3 linked regions of the Homo sapiens genome follow. The protein of the gene in region 1 purifies or fractionates together with the protein of each later gene. This does not show direct contact. Each region holds a gene or a part of one and is shown in the gene's direction. Other genes may lie near its edges.

Evidence for each region.
Region 2: the proteins of SMARCA5 (region 1) and RBBP4 fractionate together in Homo sapiens (co-fractionation; 6 studies listed by BioGRID and IntAct, with this or other methods). This does not show direct contact.
Region 3: the proteins of SMARCA5 (region 1) and RBBP7 purify together in Homo sapiens (affinity purification with mass spectrometry; 4 studies listed by BioGRID and IntAct, with this or other methods). This does not show direct contact.

The regions. Positions count from the first base shown.
Region 1 is NC_000004.12:143,548,010-143,551,748, forward strand, and holds part of SMARCA5 (SWI/SNF-related matrix-associated actin-dependent regulator of chromatin subfamily A member 5), read left to right. Parts: coding exon 1-131; intron 132-1,987; coding exon 1,988-2,095; intron 2,096-3,739. UniProt on the Homo sapiens protein: ATPase that possesses intrinsic ATP-dependent nucleosome-remodeling activity.
Region 2 is NC_000001.11:32,671,685-32,675,423, forward strand, and holds part of RBBP4 (histone-binding protein RBBP4), read left to right. Parts: intron 1-765; coding exon 766-842; intron 843-957; coding exon 958-1,015; intron 1,016-1,106; coding exon 1,107-1,217; intron 1,218-3,739. UniProt on the Homo sapiens protein: Core histone-binding subunit that may target chromatin assembly factors, chromatin remodeling factors and histone deacetylases to their histone substrates in a manner that is regulated by nucleosomal DNA.
Region 3 is NC_000023.11:16,843,841-16,846,362, reverse strand, and holds the end of RBBP7 (histone-binding protein RBBP7), read left to right. Parts: intron 1-424; coding exon 425-535; intron 536-1,259; coding exon 1,260-1,328; 3' UTR 1,329-2,022; downstream 2,023-2,522. UniProt on the Homo sapiens protein: Core histone-binding subunit that may target chromatin remodeling factors, histone acetyltransferases and histone deacetylases to their histone substrates in a manner that is regulated by nucleosomal DNA.

The DNA.
Region 1 (3,739 bases):
ATCGTTTTCTGATTTGTATGCTTCACAAACTTGGATTTGACAAAGAAAATGTTTATGATGAATTGCGACAGTGTATTCGCAACTCTCCTCAGTTCAGATTTGACTGGTTTCTTAAGTCCAGAACTGCAATGGTGAGTGCTCAGGGCTTTTTTGTGTAATGTAGCAGAGTTCAGAGTAAGTGTCATCTTTGGTATTCTTTAAGGTGACTTTAAAAAAATCTATGAAGTAGACTTTTGTTACAATATTGTTAGTATCATAAAACCTAATACCAGGGATAGCTTACAAGTTTATTGGTCCTATCCTTTAGTATCTTACGTCTTTAAATATCACTATATGATAAGACTAGCTTTTCAAGTTCTAAGTGGGAGGAAGTATCAGTTTCAACTTCTGAGTGTTACGACTTTTTGGTTTTTCAAATGAACATATTTCTATAAAGAAAAATGGTCCTTGCATTCAAGCATCTGCACATCAGAATCAGCATTCTGATTTATTTAATATAAATCATCCAGAGTCTGGATTATTTTAAGATGGCTTATTATAGTGAAACACTACTTTTGCACTGATTTAGTGCTAGGTTTTGTTTTTATTCCCAATATCTGACTAACAGTTTCTGACCAAATAGCCCCATTTCTAATAACCTAAAATTTGAATTCAGAAAAGTTTAACTTTGATGGATTGCTCCTTTTCTTCCTTATTTCACCACCATTGAACTTTGAGCTTCAACTTGTTTTCTGCCAGATGAGGATAATGCTAATAAGTTCTTTAGTCTTAAGTTTGGGATATTCTGGGATAAGCAAAGTTTAAACATCTTTGTGTTTGTTTATAGTAAGATTTCTCTGTATATTTAAAGTAAAATGTCACTTTGTAAGACAGTGGATAGTAAGCAGTATTTTCATGTTTGACCACTGAAAATTTTTTTTCACTAGACATCACTGTTTGTGATACCCAAGTTTGGGAAATGTACTAAACTTAAATACATGAAGATACTTTGAAGATAAAACACTGTATAAATATATAATTAGAGAAAAGATCCAGTTGCTGAAAGCTTATTTCTTCTTAAGTGGGAACAATTTATAGAGTTAATAAAGAATAATTTTATAGTGATTGTAACAAGACAGTGCCATGTTAATTTAACTAGTACAGTACCGTAATTTAAAACTGTGTTACTTCTTAACATGTTCCATGTTAAGATGCACAAAAAATGATAATGTATTCTTCTATCTCTATATACTATTTCTAAGTCTTGTGTGGTGTATTCTATACAGTAGTATTTTAAAATTATTTTACTGTAGTTGTGTGTGTAGTAGTATCACTTACTATAAGAAAAAAATAATTTTGCTCTATAAGAAAGGGGGCTGCTACCCAGCAGCCGTCCGTGCAGATGGACTTCTGTTTCTTTCAGGGTTAACTGCTACTTCTATGTTATACTTTAAATCTTTTCTGGAGGCTGTATGTCCAGTTTGCCAGAGAGAGATGAGGTAGAACTCATCGTAGACTTCCATGGCTGGTTTTCCAAAATTGGGAAAGGTGCCATGTGATTGATTGACTACCATAATTCTAGTGATACTTTGAAGGGAAAGATTATACACACCTGTTAAAGTTCTTGTTGTTTTTGACCCTCACATATGTGCACTATTAATCTTTTTAAGTTTTGGATATAAGTAGCACAGTAGTTCTCAGACATACACACTAAGTAGCAGTATTGCATATGTTCATTTTTATTGCTTTAATTCCTAAGTGAAGGAAGAATTTTTGAAGAATACACAGTAGTTTGGCTTTAAAGATTGGAGTAAAAACATTATTTACAAATATCTTGCCTTTAATCTTCATAGCATGAATTGTATATGAAAATCAGTTGTTTTTTTTTTAAATCAGGGGTGTATTAGTGGTTTTATATATTATCCTATTAAAACATACCTTGTTTTAAAATTGAAATCATGAAACTTGTGGATGGAAAGTGCGTGTACCATGTTTGTTTATAATTTAGGAGCTCCAGAGGAGATGTAATACCTTAATTACTTTGATTGAAAGAGAAAACATGGAACTAGAAGAAAAGGAGAAGGCAGAGAAAAAGAAACGAGGACCAAAGCCTTCAGTAAGTATTCATGAATATGTAAATATGTGGATTATGTAAATTTCCCCTTTCTAAGTATTTAACACTGCTTGGCTGTCATTGATGTGTTAGTCCCTGTTGTGCACCCCTCCATTGCCTTTACTTTTTTTTTTTTTTTTTTTTCCTTAAGGGAGAACCCAAGCTCATAATTTGAGATTCTTCCACTTTCAAATTTAGGTAGTGGTATAATTTTTAATTTTTAGTTGTTATGAGTAAGTATGTATTTATAGGTTACATGAGATACTTTGATACAGGCATGCAATAAGTAATAAGGACATCAGGGTAAATGGGGTATTTATCACCTCCAGCATTTATCCCTGTTACAAACAGTTTAACTCTTAGTTATTTTAAAATGTATAATTAAATTATTTATTGCGGTAGTCACTGTGTTGGGCTATCAAATACTGGGTCTTAGTCTCTCTTTGTATTTATTTGTATCCATTAGCCAGCCCCACTTTCCCCCACCCCCACTGCCTTTCTCAGCCTCTGGTATCCATCCTTCTCTCTGTCTCCATGAGTTTAATTGTAGTTTTTAGCTCCCACAAATAAGTGAGAACATGCCAAGTTTGTCTTTCTGTGTCTGGCTTATTTCACTTAATAAACTCCAGTTCCATCCATGTTGCTGCAAATTACAGGGTCTCATTGCTTATGGTTGAATAGTATTCTATTGTGTATACATACCATGTTTTCTTTATCCATTTATCTGTTGATGGACACTTAGGTTGCTTCCAAATCATGGCTACTGTGAATAGTGCTGCAGTAAACATGGGAGTGCACATATCTCTTTGATATACTGACTTTCTTTTGGGTGTAAACCTAGGAGTAGGGTAACTCTTATCTGTAGTTTTTTGAGGAACCTTCAAACTGCTTCCACAGTGATTGTACTAATTTGCGTTCCCACCAAAAGTGTATGAGGGTTTCCTTTTCTCCACATTCTTGTCAGGATTTGTTATTGCCTGACTTTTGGATAAAAGCCATTTTATCTGGGATGAGATGTTATCTCATTGTAGTTTTGATTGCATTTCTCTGATGATCAGTGATACTGAACAGCTTTTAATATGCTTGTTTGCCATTTGTATGTCTTCCTTTGAGAATCATCTGTTCAGATCTTTTGCCTATTTTTAAATCGGACTGTTAGGATTTTTTTCAGTAGAGTTGTTTGAGCTCTTACATATTCTGGTTATTTATTAATCCTTTGACAAATGGGTAGTTTGCAAATATTTTCTTCCATTCTGTGGGATGTCTCTTCACTTTGCTGTTTCCTCTGCTGTGCAGAAGCTTTTTAACTTAATGTGATCCCATTTGTCCATTTTTGCTTTGGTTGCCTGTGGGGTATTATTCAAGAAATCTTTGCCCAGTCCAGTGTTCTGGAGAGTTTTCCCAATGTTTTCTTGTAGTTTCACAGTTTGAGGACTTAAAGTCTTTAATACATTTTGATTTGATTTTTTTATATAGTTAGGGATACAGGTCAAGTTTCATTCTTCTGTGTATGGATATCCAATTTTCCCATTACCATTTATTGAAGAGACTGTCCTTTCTCCAGTGTATGTTCTTGGTAGCTTTGTCAAAAATGAGTTCCATGTAGATGTATGGACTTTACGGACTTATCTCTGGGTTCTCTGTTCT
Region 2 (3,739 bases), on another chromosome or scaffold:
GCCTCATCTCTTTTTTTTTTTGATACCAGCCTAACCCCATCTCTACACAAATACAAAAATTAGCTGGCCGTGGTGGCGGACACCTGTAATCCCAGCTACCTGGGAGGCTAAGGTGGGAGAGTCGCTTGAACCTGGGAGGTGGAGGTTTCAGTGAGCTGAGATCCTGCCATTGTACTCCAGCCTGGGTGACAGAGCAAGACTTCCGTCTCAAGAAAAAGTGTGCCAAAGGGGTGCTGTGGGAATGGAACAAAAGCTTATATCCTGGGTCTAGAAATGTCTAGTAATGGGTTGTTTTTGTAAACATTTTTTTTTTGTTTTTCTTTTTGTTTGTTTTTGAGAGAGTCTGTCACCCAGGCTGGAGTGCAGTGGCACGATCTCAGCTCCAACCTCTGCTTCCTGGGTTCAAGCAATCCTCCTGCCTCAGCCTCCCGAGTAGCTGGGATTACAGGCGCCTGCCACCACACCCAGCTAATTTTTGTATTTTTAGTAGAGACAGTGTTTCACCATGTTGGTTAGGCTGATCTTGAACTCCTGACCTCATGTGATCCACCCGCCTCCCAAAGTGCTGGGATTACAGGTGTGAGCCAACCGCGCCTGCCCATAAAATAAATTCTTTAGCTCTTAATTTTAACTGTAACGTGTATAATACCTTGACTTCCTCTTCCCTTTTATTTACAAAATTTTTAAATTGTTAAATATTTTGTGAATTTTTTCCCTTTATTTTCTAATTCATGGCTTTGCTCTTTTCTTCATTCCTATGTGTAGGTTCAGTGGTCACCTCACAATGAGACTATTTTAGCTTCCAGTGGTACTGATCGCAGACTGAATGTCTGGGATTTAAGGTAATTCTTGTATTCATTCCTCTCTCTACATAATTATTTCCTTTATTTACACTTTGCAAAGGTAGTTACTAAGGGTAAATCTGTTTTAACTTTTAAAATTATGCTTTTGTACTAGTAAAATTGGAGAGGAACAATCCCCAGAAGATGCAGAAGACGGGCCACCAGAGTTGTTGGTATGTTAAAAGCATTGGACAGTACTGAAATAGTCTGTAATTTAATGTCCTCTATCTGCATTTCACCTCTTTGTTTTCTTCCCTCTTTCAGTTTATTCATGGTGGTCATACTGCCAAGATATCTGATTTCTCCTGGAATCCCAATGAACCTTGGGTGATTTGTTCTGTATCAGAAGACAATATCATGCAAGTGTGGCAAATGGTAAGGGTTTAGTAATTTATTTTGGGGAGGTGAAATAAGTGAGACATAGAATCAATTTACATTTGTATATTTTATGATTACAGCTACCATCTCTGTTCATTTTACTCCCAGGTGTGATTTTAAGACTTGTCTATACATTATCATTTTCAGCTGCCTGCTCTTGACTGTATTTGGTCATACCACTGGTATTTTAAACTCTGCTAAACAAAACTGACCCTCTCTCCCACTTCTCCTTTTCCCTCTCCTCCTTCTTTCTTTCTTTTTGTATGACTCCAACATTTTCCTAGCTAACCAGACTTGAAAACTCAAGAATTTTCCATGTCTGTTTACTTCTAGTTCTAGTTCACTTCCAGATTTCATACCATCTATCTGCGGTGTTTCTCCCATCTTATCATCTTACAAGTACAAATTTACATACCCAAAGGAGGTATATCATATCACAGCATCAAATACTACTATTTCTCCATGAAAGCTGTCTAGATTTCAAAAATGTTCCCTATCTCTATCTCAAAGAATGTGAACACCCTCCTTAAATTTTCTCTTTTTTTTTTTTTGAGATGGTCTCTCACTTTTTCACCCAGGCTGGAGTGCAATGGTGCAATCTCGGCTCACTGCAACTTCCACCTCCCAGGTTCGATCGATTCTCCTGCCTCAGCCTTCTGAGTAGCTGGGACTATAGGTGCGTACCACCATGCCTGGCTAATTTTTTTGTATTTTCAGTAGAGACGGTTTCACTATGTTGGCCAGGCTGGTCTCAAACTCCTGACCTTGTGATCCGCCCACCTCGACCTCCCGGAGTGCTGGGATTGCAGGCATGAGCCACCGCGCCTGGCCTCTTAAATTTTCAAAGCACTTCAATTTAATAAAAATAACTGTGGTGTCTCATACATTAATATTTTTAAAATAGTTATATTCGGCCGAGCACGTTGGCTCACGCCTGTAATCCCAGTACTCTGGGAGGCCGAGGCGGGTGGATCACGAGGTCAGGAGATCGAGACCATCCTGGCTAACACAGTGAAACCCCATCTGTACTAAAAATACAAAAAAAAATTAGCCGGGCGTGGTGGCGGGCGCCTGTAGTCCCAGCTCCTCAGGAGGCTGAGGCAGGAAAATGGCGTGAACACGGGAGGCGGAGCTTGCATTGAGCCAAGATTGCGTCACTGCACTCTGGCCTGGGCGACAGAGCGAGACTCCGTCTCAATTAAAATATATATATGTATATATTCCGGAGATAGGTGGTGGTTATGGTTAATGCAGTGTGAGTGTACTTAATGCCACTGAACTGTACACTTAAAATGGCTAAGCTGATAAATTTTATGTTGTATGGAGTTTGCGACAATTTGGAGGTGGAAGACAGTTTCTTGCTCTGTTGTTCAGGCTACAGTGCAGTGGTGCGATTACAGCTCACTGCAGCCTCCAATTCCCGGGCTCAAGACATCCTCCTACCTCAGCCTCCCTAGTAACTGGGACCACAGGTGTGCATCACCAGCCCTGGTTAATTTTTAAAATTTTTTGTAGAGATGGGGTTTGCCATGTTGGCCAGTCTGGTCTTGAACTTGTGAGCTCAAGCGATTTGCCCACCTCCCAGAGTGCTGGGAGTACATGTGTGAGGCTGCCCACCCGCCCCCCACTTTTTTTTGTTTTTAAAGAAGTGCGTAACTTGGTGGTTGTCTGGTAAAGGAAAAGAATTCAGAAGAAACTTGGTGTCTCTCAGAGTAGATCTAGTACCAGGAATTAAGTTCCAGGGAATAGTTTTTGACTCATCATGAGGAGAGGGAGGATGTTTTCATCAGTACTTTCTTACTTTTTATTTCTTTATTTTTTTTTTAATTTTTTTTTTTTCTGAGACAGAGTCTCACTGCCTCACCCAGGCTGGAGTTCAGTAGAGCAATCTCAGCTCACTGCAACCTCTGCCTCCCAGGTTCAAGCAATTCTCCTGCCTCAGCCTGCTGATTAGCTAGGATTACAGGCATGCACCACCATGCCCGGCTAGTTTTTTTGTTGTTGTTTTTTATTTAGTAGAGACGGGGTTTCACCATGTTGGTCAGGGTGGTCTCGATCTCCTGACCTCATGATCCGCCCTCTTTGGCCTCCCAAAGTACTGGAATTACAGACGTGAGCCACCGTGCCCGGCATTTTTATTTTTGAGACGGAGTTTTGTTCTTATTTTCCAGCCTGGAGTGCAATGGTGCGATCTTGGCTCTCTGCAACCTCCGCCTCCTGGGTTCAAGCGATTCTCCTGCCTCAGCCTCCCGAGTAGCTGAGATTACAGGCATGCGCCACCACGCCTGGCTAAATTTTTGTAATTTTTTTTAGTAGAGACTGGGTTTCTCCATGTTGGTCAGGCTGGCCTCGAACTCCTGACCTCAGGTGATCTGCCTGCCTCGGCCTCCCAAAGTGCTGGAATTACAGGCGTGAGCCACCGCGCCTGGCGTAATAGCACTATTAATTGAAGACAGAAATAAAATAAGTTTGTGACCTGCCAGACTAACAGATTGTACTACATCCATACTTTTTTTTTC
Region 3 (2,522 bases), on another chromosome or scaffold:
TTACCTTAGATGTTTGCACCTAACTGTATATGAGCAAATGATGCTGGATTAATGTTCATCATAATCAGTATGGAAATGGCATTTTGACTAGGAAAATGTCCTCATTCTTAAGGGATGCAGGCTGAAGTCTTCAGCCATTTCATTGTATAGGCTCATGGATAAAGCATCAGTTATGCTAGTATCACTTGGTGAATCTAGGTAAAGGGTATACAGGTATCCATTGTACTATATTCTGTCACCTATTCTGGAGGTTTGGAAATTTGCAAAATAAGTATAAATAGATTACTGAGCCTGTACCACCTTCTAAAACCAGACAGCACCCACCCCCAGTTGAAATACTGATAGCTCTAAAAACTTAGTAAAACCTTTGTTAGGATTAACAGGAGAGTATATGAAATCAAAGCTTTTTTTGTTCTTGTAACAGTTTATTCATGGAGGACACACTGCTAAGATTTCAGATTTTAGCTGGAACCCCAATGAGCCTTGGGTCATTTGCTCAGTGTCTGAGGATAACATCATGCAGATATGGCAAATGGTGAGTTAAAATGTTTTTCTTGAATGACTGTCTTGTAAAGGAGAGATTTACTACTTACATAATGTAATAAAGTTATTTCGAATATGTAGGTGCATATTATGCCAAACATTTACAGAAACCGTTTAAAAGAACTTTTTCCATTTCAACAATACAATCTTTAGTCCCATATGGTGCTTCGTCCACTGTTTGCTATTTGTAGCACCTGTCAGGTCAGGAGAAATCTCTGCATCTGCACTGATTTTCATTGTTGTTGTGCTCTTCATACACTGGAGTCTTGGCGTCGCTACTCTGTCTCCAGTGTCTGTTCTGTGTGGTAGGCATGAGGGATACAGGAAGGAGAGGTCAAGGCATTCAAATGACAGCAAGTTCTCTGAGGATGAGCACTAAGTAGCTGACATTTCTAAGTTGTTGTTAACCGAGACTTCCATAACATCTGGGCTACCACTTCCTCTAAACGATGCTTGAAGTGCCTTTGGAAAACATCTCTTATGAACAGTGATTGAAATAAGTAGTGCATCGATGGGTGGCTAAGTATACATACGGAATTACACACTGGCAAAGAATTTTTCAAAATACTGGCTAGCCTACCATTTCCTTATTGAAGTTTTTAAGAGAGAAATGTAAAAATGAAACTATTAAGTTCTAAATAGATTAAATTGTTTTTACATGACCATGTGAAAACCATAGGGAGTTTTTACCTGTGAATTTATTTGGTTATCTCCAGGCTGAAAATATTTACAATGATGAAGAGTCAGATGTCACGACATCCGAACTGGAGGGACAAGGATCTTAAACCCAAAGTACGAGAAATGTTTCTGTTGAATGTAATGCTACATGAATGCTTGATTTATCAAGCGCCAAAAAGGCATTGTATAGTAGGAAATGTAAGTGGGGTGGCTTATGGCTTCTTTATCCTCTGATTCTAGCACTTTCAAGTGAGCTGTTGCGTACTGTATCATATTGTAGCTATTAGGGAAGAGAAGAATGTTGCTTAAGAAAGAACATCACCATTGATTTTAAATACAAGTAGCAGGGTATTGCCTTTGATTCAACTGTTTTAAGTCCTCATTTTCTCAAACTAAGTGCTTGCTGTTCCCAAATATGCAAGAATAACTTTTACACTTTTTCCTTCCAACACTTCTTGATTGGCTTTGCAGAAATAAAGTTTTAAAATAAAACTTGTGTTTTTTTAAAAGCTTAGTGGGGGGGGGCGGGGGAGTCTACTTTTTGAGTAGAAATGGGTAAAATGGTACCTTTGGACTCCTACAGTTAAGGTCACATGGATAATGAAAGAATACACAGAAGCTGTTAAGTTTATCATACATATTTACTTAATCTATACAGAATCAAGTAGATAAAATCAGATTCACATTAGTGAAAAATCTCTACAAAATGTCTTTGAAAAGCAAAACGAGACTGCCTCTTAACAATTCGTATCCTCATGAAAGACGTGGGCTGTAAAAATAAAGCAGTGTGTTTAGCACAAACTAGAAGATATCTGCATCATTTTTTTCACAGTTATTTCCATCTACAGTCTGAAAGAGGTAGATTTTTCTGCAACACCTGAGAATTGAATTGTGATAACCAGGTGTAATAAAGGCAGTTGCATACATAACTGAAAAATACTGGTCTCAAGACCAAGAAATGTACTCCTAACAAGTCTGAGGATGAAATGGTCCATATTACCCAAGACCCAAGTTTTCTCTACACCTTGGAGTCCACCGCCAATATAAATAATACACATCACGATTCCATGATGGTGCAACAATTGCAATTTAAGTGAATTCAACATTTAAACCTTTTCTGGGCCAGCCTAGTAGCATTACAGTGTTCTAGAATATGGTAGATACGGGGTGCGCTACAAAGCCACAACACTGGGCTGGTGAGGTGATCACTGTAGGAAGATGTCCTTCTCAGGGGGTCCCATTTGTTTTTATTCACAGGGTAATGGGAGGAAGGGTTCTGAAAGGACAACAAATGCATCCCA